Regions from separate parts of the Homo sapiens genome. Here region 1 is linked to region 2. Evidence: fine-mapped expression QTL. A gene starts in region 2. The other region holds a variant in brackets. All regions are shown on one strand. Distances are between the middles of the regions. Region 1 overlaps HIVEP2 (HIVEP zinc finger 2). Region 2 holds the start of HIVEP2 (HIVEP zinc finger 2).

Region 1 (4,388 bases), 34 kb after region 2:
ACCTCTTTCTTCCAAGGCTTGTGGGAAAGTGCCTAGAAACTTAGTTAAGTATGGCAATTAGATACTTAGTTAAGTATGGCATTGAAGCTGGCAAAAGAAAGCAGTGAGCAGTGAAGTACCAGTGTGATAACTCTTCAATCCTTTTTAGTATTTTCTGTCTTCATGGGGACAGCCAGTGTGCCCTGATCCATGGGTTTTCCCCCTCAAACTGGTTTATTGAAAAAATCAGATATTGTTCATACTTCAGGTACTTTGAAACTATCCAAATGATAGCATGAAGGAAATGTACGTTTTTCGTGTTTCAGAAGTCGTCAGAGTGAAAGTAGAAGTTCTCATTAGCATCCCAAGGCTTGAGTTTTTGAAGATGTTGTAACAGCATGAGTAAGAAATGAATTGATACAACTTTTTGACAAGCTCATCCTAAGCTAAGCAGTTCGGTTCCCATAGGTCACCATGAGTCCTGGTTTTGTCTCCCTGCTGTGGTAAGGGGCCATCCTCTGTGTGCTGGCTGATGACAGTCTTAGTCTCCTCGTCTGTAAATTGGGGATAACAATACCTCCAATACAGCCCAGTGCTTTTCTGATTTATGTCTGCTAAGTACATTTTCATACCCACTTCTAAAATCATTTGATTTTTTCTTCTCCTTATAAATGTGCAGCACAAGCAATAATTCCACCTAAGCATCTACCTCGTAGGAATGATCACAAAACCTTACCATTCTTTAAACTCACAGTCTCCAACCTTTTTGGCACCAGGAACCAGTTTCATGGAGGAGAATTTTTCCATGGTGTGGGGATGGTGGATGGTTTCCGGATGAAACAGTTCCACCTCAGATCATCAGACATTAGATTGTCATAAGGAGCATGCAACCTAGATCCCTCGCATGCGCGGTTCACAGTCGGTTTCACGCTCCTATGAGAATCTAATGCTACCGCTGCTCTGATAGGAGGTGGAGCTCAGGCAGTAATGCTCGCTTGCCCACCACTCACCTGGTGCTGTGCGACGCGGTTCCTAAAAGGCCATGGACCATTACTGGTAACTGAACATGACCCACTGGCCTTGAGAAGCTGACTGTAGAGGAGATGGATGTGCACGTAGCTATCAAGCCAGGATGAAAACAGCCACGAGAAGAGAGGTGTGATGAGGAGAAGGGGGAAGGGATTTCTGAGGAGAAATATATGAATTCTACTAGAGGGGCTTGAGAAGCCTTAGTGGGAGGGACAAAAGTTCGATCACTGTTATTAGCATGTGTTTGGAACTAGATGTAAATAACAATGGTTGTATACACTGAGGCCTGAAGTTGTCTTTTCAGAAAGACTGACACTCTGGAGCAGTGCTCTCCAATTGAACTGCATTGGCCAATATGGTAGCCACTAAACACAAGTGGCTTTGGGGTACTTGAAATGTGGCCGTGCAGCTGAGGAACTAATTTTTAAATTTTATTTAATGCTAATTTTATATTTAAACCTAAGCAGCCACATATGGCTAGTGCCTACCATACTGGATAGCACAGCCAGAGGAAACCTGCTGTCACTAACCCAGTATGGAGATTTCAGATAATTATCTTGATCACAAATCAAATCACAAAGTCAGAGACTTTGATTGGCTTTTGCTTTTCAGTATCATTAGCCATAAGTACTAGCACTGAAACATCCATTAGACACTAAAATACAGTAACTCATTAATTATGAAATGATGAGCGGTCAGTTAAATTAGTCAGTGATACCCTCGACACACACACTCATGCATAGATCTACATGCATGCACACATATCATGCACACATACGCATCACAGACACACAAACACTCACACACATTTCCCCTGATTGTTTCTTGAACTGGACAGAGGGAGAAATATGTTTTTGAATGGCTTGTTGTCTCATTTCTGAGACAGTGAATTAATGATCCTTCTCCTGGGAGCAGTGTCAGGCTGAGCAAAGAGTCCCTGATGGAAGGAAAGGACCAGCTTTGTCCTATAATAAGAACCCTGCAAAAAAGGGTCTCAGATGATTCTTAGTCTCCTCGTCTGTAAATCTGGGGATAACAATACCTCCTCTGTCTGCCTCAAAAGATAATATATGTTTATAAAACCTTCTTTTCAGGGAGGTTTTCCCAAACCAATATCTCATCTTTTTAATAAGCCTGCAGGACACTTCTCTTTCTGTGTTGACTATGGTACCAAGAGATATGATTATACATATTTTCTCCTTGATCTTAAATGCCCTATGGCAATCATCACACCTTTTTAGAGACCCACTTGAAAATTGCTATGTTTAAATTCTGCCCCAAACTTGTTTTAGAATTCTTCCTTTCTGAATCCCAACTGTATTCTGTTCAGTCCTAGGCTCTGCCCCTCTCAGCACGTTTGTCCTCTATTCACTGGGCTCCCCTGAAATGTTGTTTGTGCTTATTTTTAAGTTTTTTTTTTTTTTTTTTTT[TA/A]ATGTGTTTGTGCTTTGTCTTCCATATTAAAGTGGAAACTCTCTGGGTAGAGGTGACCTTTAAACTTTATTGTCTTGAACTTTTTAAACTTAATTTTATCCAGTGCATTGCAGAGGGTGGCATTCATTAAATTTTGCAGACTGGTAGTAAAATAGAGGACTTGAGTCTTTAGGGCTCAGACTGACATTTTCAATGTGTACTCTTTGGTTATTTAGATCAGTGGATTCAAGCTGTATCATGCACGATGGTCTTTCAAGGAGCGTTAAAAAATTCAGGCCCCCATGCTCTACGCATGTGATTCACTAGGTCTGAGGTGAGGCACAGGGAACCTTAATGTTAAGAGGTAAATTAGGTAATTCTGCTGCCGGTGATCTGAGAACTACTCTTTGAGAAACAGTGGTTTATATATTAAGATACCATTTCTATGGACTGTACTTAAAGAAGACTTTTCTGGCAGTAGGGATCTTGCTTCTAAGCAGAAGTGTAGGTTTGTTGTTGTTGTTGTTGTTTTGTTTTGTTTATCTTTATTTTTATTTTTTGAGACGTAGTCTCGCTGTGTCACCAGGCTGGATTGCAGTGGCACAATCTTGGCTCACTGCAACCTCTGCCTGCCGGGTTCAAACAATTCTCCTGCCTCAGCCTCTCATATAGCTGGGACTACAGGCATGCGCCACCACACCCAGCTAATTTTTGTGTTTTTTAGTAGAGATGGGGTTTCACCATGTTGGCCAGGATGGTCTCAATCTCTTGACCTCGTGATCTGCCTGCCTCAGCCTCCCAAAGTGCTGGGATTACAGGCGCAAGCCACCATGCCTGGCCTGTTTTGTTTATTTTAGAAGAGAATGAGAGAAGAGTGGGAAATTTTGTTGGTAAAACATTTCTTTAAATTATCTTCTTAAATGGGTGGCATGGTCAGTTGGGTAATAGAAATATCTCATCAGAAAGAAACGGATAATGCATGAAATGATTTTATCAAACTGCAATGGTAGAAAATACCTATTCAGCCTTCACTCAGAGCTTGTTTGTCCTTATTTTAGGCTTAGTTTTAATAGGCTTGATGATCTGATTGGCTAGAGATTAGGAGCAGTATATGGAAGTCAAACATTGTCACTGGTAAAGGATGGCATGTTGACTGCAAATGTAATCACTGACAGCCTGAAAGTGAAGAAGGAAATAGATAAACTATAAAAATCAGAAGCAAGATCTTAAAGATCAAAATATAGGCCACTGGAGGAAACAAGAGTGCAGGGGTAAGCAAATGTAAGCATCTCAGTAGCTTCAGAAGCTGTTACTGTGTTTCCCCCAATTTACAGTAGCTATTTTTTGATCTTTCTACTCAGAATCTAAGTTCTACTAGGGCTGAGACCATGCCTGCCCCATATGATACTGTTATCTCCAGGACTTAATGTTGTACTTGACTCATAGAAGAGGCTCCCTAAGTATTTTCCTAGTAAATGGAAATAAATAAATGAGTAGGTTTGCTATGGTGATCTATGTTTATGATAATGACCCTGAGATATTTCTGATTAAAAACAGAGGCAGTTGGTTTTTTTGCATTTTAGATATATGTAATCTCAAAAAATGTTGGTGTATAAAGCCTTATTAAACATGCTTAATATATATTCATTCATTCCTCAGTGACCTCCTCTCTAACACTGCTGCACTCTCCCCTGCCTAGTTTATATTTAAATTGTCTTAAAATCATGGGATTTAATTTTCAGATTATAAATACTCATATATGTAGATATATACTAAAATATTTTGAATCATCTGCCAATGTATACTATACCATTGCTATGTAAACACAGCATCTTTTAAGGTCTTGAAAAATGTTCAGATAGATTTTTGTCTATAGATAGTAGAAATCTGTGTATACCAATTTGAAGCTATCTCTTTCTGTATAGCTAATGCTTTTATAGTTAATTGTTCTTTAATAGATCATAATGATT
Region 2 (4,388 bases):
GTGGCACCCTAGGAACCTCCCCCGAGGGTGCACACCAGTCCACATAGGCAGGGTAACGGCCCGAGAGAGCCCCGGTGTCCCCCGGGTGTCGCCCGGCCGGGGAGGAAGCCCAGAGCTTCGGCTCCCACTCGCCTGGGATTCCCCCGCCTCCCGGCCCCGCTCTCCCAGGGTTGGTTGTGATTTCAACTCCGGTCCCTTCCGTGGAGAGGGAAGCGCACAGGCTGAAGGTGGCAGCTCGCCCCGAGGTTCCAGCGCGGCCCACCAGGAAACCGGCAGCTGCTCTTCGCGCCGCTGCCCACACCTATTTGAATCCCCTGGCGAGGGCGGGCCGCGGTCCCCGAACTGGGGGTGCCGGGGGCACCCTGGTGAGTGACCTCAGGGAAGGTAATCCGGGCGTTTCGAGCACGTGAATAGTTCGCGCGCCCGCAGGGGCACGGAAAGTGCTAGTAAAACCCTACAAAGCTCCAGAAACCCAGCCGGGAGCCACAGTCTGATTTTGCTTTTCTTGACCGATAACATAATTGTGAGTAGAGGCAGGGGGCGAGGAGAGGCCAGGGATCCGGAGTACTGGTTCCAAATCTAAGGGCACTACTAATTATACAATTCCGTTCGTCAGGAAGGCAGACAACGATTCTCTGGGAAATGGGGAAGGGGTGGGGACGGAGGACGTTTCCACATCCTTAAAGGAAATTCTCAGGCTCCTAGAGATGCCCAAGTTTTTTTGCATGACAAGTAGAGACCAGCTCTCCGGGGAGTTCCCCGCTCCGACCGAGCGAGTGCGCGGCCGCGATCTCCCCGCCCGCAGCGGCAGCCGTGGGGCCCGGCCCTGCCCTCCCGACCGCCTCCCTCCCCCGTCGCCCCGCGCGCCGCACATCCCTCTCTCGCTCACTGGCTCCAGACTGGTTTTTCTGGTTCAGCCTCCCTCCCTGGGACGCGCTGGGGGATCCGATGACGTCGTTGGCTGAGTCTCTCCCTCTTCCTCCCTCCCTCCCTCCGCCTCTCCCCCCGTCCGCCCTCGCCGCGCACTCCTCCTAGTAACTTCTGTTCGGGGAGGCGCTGCCAGGAATAACCCGGTGCGTCCACAGCCCGGGAGGGGAGGCGGCCGCTGCGGCTCCCGCACGCAGACAGCTGCGGCCCGGGCCTCGCGGCTCCCGCCTGAGCCCGGCGGCCCCTGCCCCGGGCCCATCTCCGTACAGTGTCAGAAAAATAAATAAAGGCAAGAGGAGCCTGGGCTGGCGGTCGGGATCTTTTCCCTCCCTCCGCGCCCGCCCTCCCTCTGTCCTTAAGGAAATGCTACCAGACACCCCCCACCAGACACGCTCAGCCTTGGCGAGGAGCGGCCGCCGCGGCAGCGAGAACAAGGGCACCAGGGGGGTTTCCTCCCCCTCCTCCTCTCCCTCCTCCTCCCCGTCCTCCTTCTCCTCCTCCTCAGCGGTGACTTTCCAGGTGAGCGGCCGCCGCGGCTGCGAGGATCCCCCTCGCCCGCTGGGGCTCGGGCCGCCGCGTCGCGCCCTCCTCCCGCCCCTGTCACCCGGCGGCGGCCGGGAGCTGACAGCCGCCCGAGGGGCTCGCGGCCCGGAGGCGGGCGGCCGGCGGGAGGCGGGCTGGAGGTGAGGGGGTGGAGAGGAGGAGAGCGGGGCGCCGCCGAGCGCCGTCGTTCCCCGCAGGAGGGTCTCCGCACAAACATCTTCGGTGACTGTGGCACAAGTCTTTGCCAAGTTGTGTCTTGGACCTTGACGCTCCACGGAGCCCAGAGCAACTTGGAGGGTCTCCCGGCTCGTTCACAGCGTTCCTCCACGTCTCGCGTCTGGGGTGCTGGGTGCAGCCTCGGGGTGCGCGGAGGGCGGACCGGCCACCGCGAGAGCGGAGCGGCGGGAATCTAGGTCCCTCCTCGGCTCGGTAAGTGGCCTGGACGCTGGGTTTTTCCTGCCTCCTTCGGCGCTGGGAGCTTGTTTCACTTTATATTGGAATCGCCGCCGCCGAACTCCGTCCCCCGCTCCCCGGCGTGTGCCCCCAGCCCCTTCCCGGTGGCCCGAGGGTGAGGGTCGGAGGGGGCGGGGATGGGGGAGACCGCGGGAGGGGTGTCGGGCGCGTGGGGAAATGCGGGGAATACCCTGGCCGCGGATCTATGCAGATGAGGGGAGGCTGCTTTGCGTAATGTCCTGGGGGGAGGGGGCCGCGCGGGAGCGCTGGAGGCAGGAATGTGCCTGCTTACTAATGAGCGACGTGCACCGGCGCGCACGGCCCGGCCACCGCTGCGGCTGCGGCGGCCGGCGGCGGCCCGTTGTCAGGTAGCGGGGGAGGGGGCCGCGGCGCGCGGCGCAGGCGGCCGGGCGGGCTGGCGGCGCGAGGCCCGGGCCGCCGGCCTGCGGCCGAGCGAGCGCAGCGAAGGCGCTGGCTCTGGGCATTTCAGTGACTCCCTTTACCTCCCGGGCAAGGAAGGAAGGAAGGAAGGAGCGAAGGAAGGAAGCGAGGAAGGAGGGGACTGTCTCGATGGAAGGTTCAGGCGGAGGCGCCCTCGCCTTGCGGGTGCACCGGCTGCAGAGCGGCTCTGGCCGCTGCCGGCTGGACCCGGGCGCGTGGAGACGGGTGGGGGCGGTTTGCATGCGTGTTTGTCTGTCCGTCTGGCGGGGGATCGGGAAGGGACATGTGTGTTTGGGCTGTGCACTGTGGGGAACTGGGTCTGCGCCTTTATGTCTGTTCCCTGAAGTGGGTGGAACGTTGGCCCGTTCCGGGAATGTTCCATGACGTGGTGCAGCCACAGGAAGGGGGTTAACGAGGGGCTCTCTGCCGCGGCGGCACTGCCGGCTGCTATCAAAGCAGATGTGCTGCTGCTGCTCCTCCTCCTCTTTCACCTCCTTTCACCCCCACCCCCCGCCTTTCCATTCTGTGCCTCTGGTACTGGTAGGGGTGAGACAGGAAAACATTGCTCTGGGTGTGTGCGTGTGTGTGTGTGTGTGTGGGTGTGTGGGGGAGGGGGTGCTGATGTGCATGTGTGGGGTCTGTCGTATTTGGTGGGGGGGGGGGGTGGACTCCAGATCCGCTCTGCTACCCCAGCTGTTATCACAGATCGGTGCGCTTTATACGCATGTGCCTCCCGCGTTCTGTCCCTCTTACATAACACATCCAGTGCAGCAGAGGACATGAGAAAATGCGACCCCAACCCTCCAAGCCCAAATTGGGTGAGGGGATAGAAGGTCAGGAAGCGTCCCTGGGTGTTGTCCTTCAGGGACTTGGTTCCCAGTGGGGGAAAGGAAGAAGGGAAGGAGGGTTTCTTCAAGTGGCTCCTCTCATCTCTGACTTAAAAGCATCTAACTAAAAAGGACTGCAGGCACTAGTCTTCCCTAACGGGAAAGCTTGTAACTAGCTACACCAAGGGAACGGGGGCACTTTAACCTCGGGAGTGCGGAGAAGAGAGAGGGTCCTTAATCAAGACACTTGGAGGAGAGAAGCAATAATGTGTGGGCGGCGGATGGGGGGCGCTGGGGATGACTTCGAGGAGACCAGAGGAATCTCTTGATAATAGGTTTCACTGGAGGCCTTAGGACACCTGTAATGGCTTAGCATTCACACAGGAAGTTGTGTGTGCAACTGACATTGCAAAACCCTTATTCTCTGCAGAGTTATTTAGGCCTAAAATGAATATAGAAAGGCTTGTTTCCTGTACTTTCATTATAATGGAAAATTTGAGCTGATTTTTCTCCTTCCTTTTCTGCCATTTTAAAAATAACTCAATTTACCTCCAAATGAATATTGGTACTCGCCCCCAACCCTAAAGCTGGACCTCAATAATTCACAAGAGATCTGTGTTTTTCTAGCATACCCAGAGCCCTAGTCAAGGGCTATTGATTTTTCTCCTCAATACAGTTGTTTCTTTTGTAGTGCATAATCAAGCCCAGACATTACTTGAAATATTAATAAGATCCATTTTAATTAAATTTGCAATGATCTGTCCTCCTAGAAAAAGGCCATTTAACTTTATTAGAAACGTTTCCTCCAGTGATATAGTAATATTTGGTGATATTTGCCCTTGAGCAAACCAAGTTATTTTAAATATTTGCACATATAGATCCCATATGTTTGCTACATATGTAGCAAATGTCTCATTGCTTTTTCACCTTATAAGAGTGCCAGAAGCAGAATTTTAACGAAGTAGACTGTGGAATGAGTAGATTGGGTTTGATTTTTAGGATATAGGCCAAATGGTTTATCAGAACAGAAATGTCCTTTCTGTGACTAAAGTGGGTATCATTTTCATTATTAAGAGAAAATTCCCTGTGGAACCCTAAGGAGTCATAGTACCAAATGACAACTGTACATTTGCATTGTGAGCTGAAAGGGATTTACCAGTATTTACTTAATGATAGTGTGTTTGTTTCAAGTGTCAT

What was found.
Region 1: its variant is fine-mapped to the expression of HIVEP2 in whole blood (INTERVAL, PIP above 0.99).

What each region holds. Positions count from the first base shown.
Region 1 is chr6:142,909,191-142,913,578 of GRCh38, reverse strand. The region is part of intron 1 of HIVEP2 (HIVEP zinc finger 2); the gene reads left to right. Among named protein-coding and RNA genes, the nearest start is that of HIVEP2, 34 kb to the left of the region's middle. RefSeq lists enhancers at 1-66, 699-1,555. The variant TA/A (reference allele first, on the strand shown) is at 2,439.
Region 2 is chr6:142,943,002-142,947,389 of GRCh38, reverse strand. HIVEP2 (HIVEP zinc finger 2) reads left to right here and starts at 2,214. Exons shown (of 10, transcript NM_006734.4): 1 at 2,214-2,291. HIVEP2-DT (HIVEP2 divergent transcript) reads right to left here and starts at 901. Exons shown (of 3, transcript XR_001744397.3): 1 at 1-901. RefSeq lists silencers at 715-934, 985-1,614, 1,845-2,074, 2,275-2,374, 2,515-2,584 and 1 more.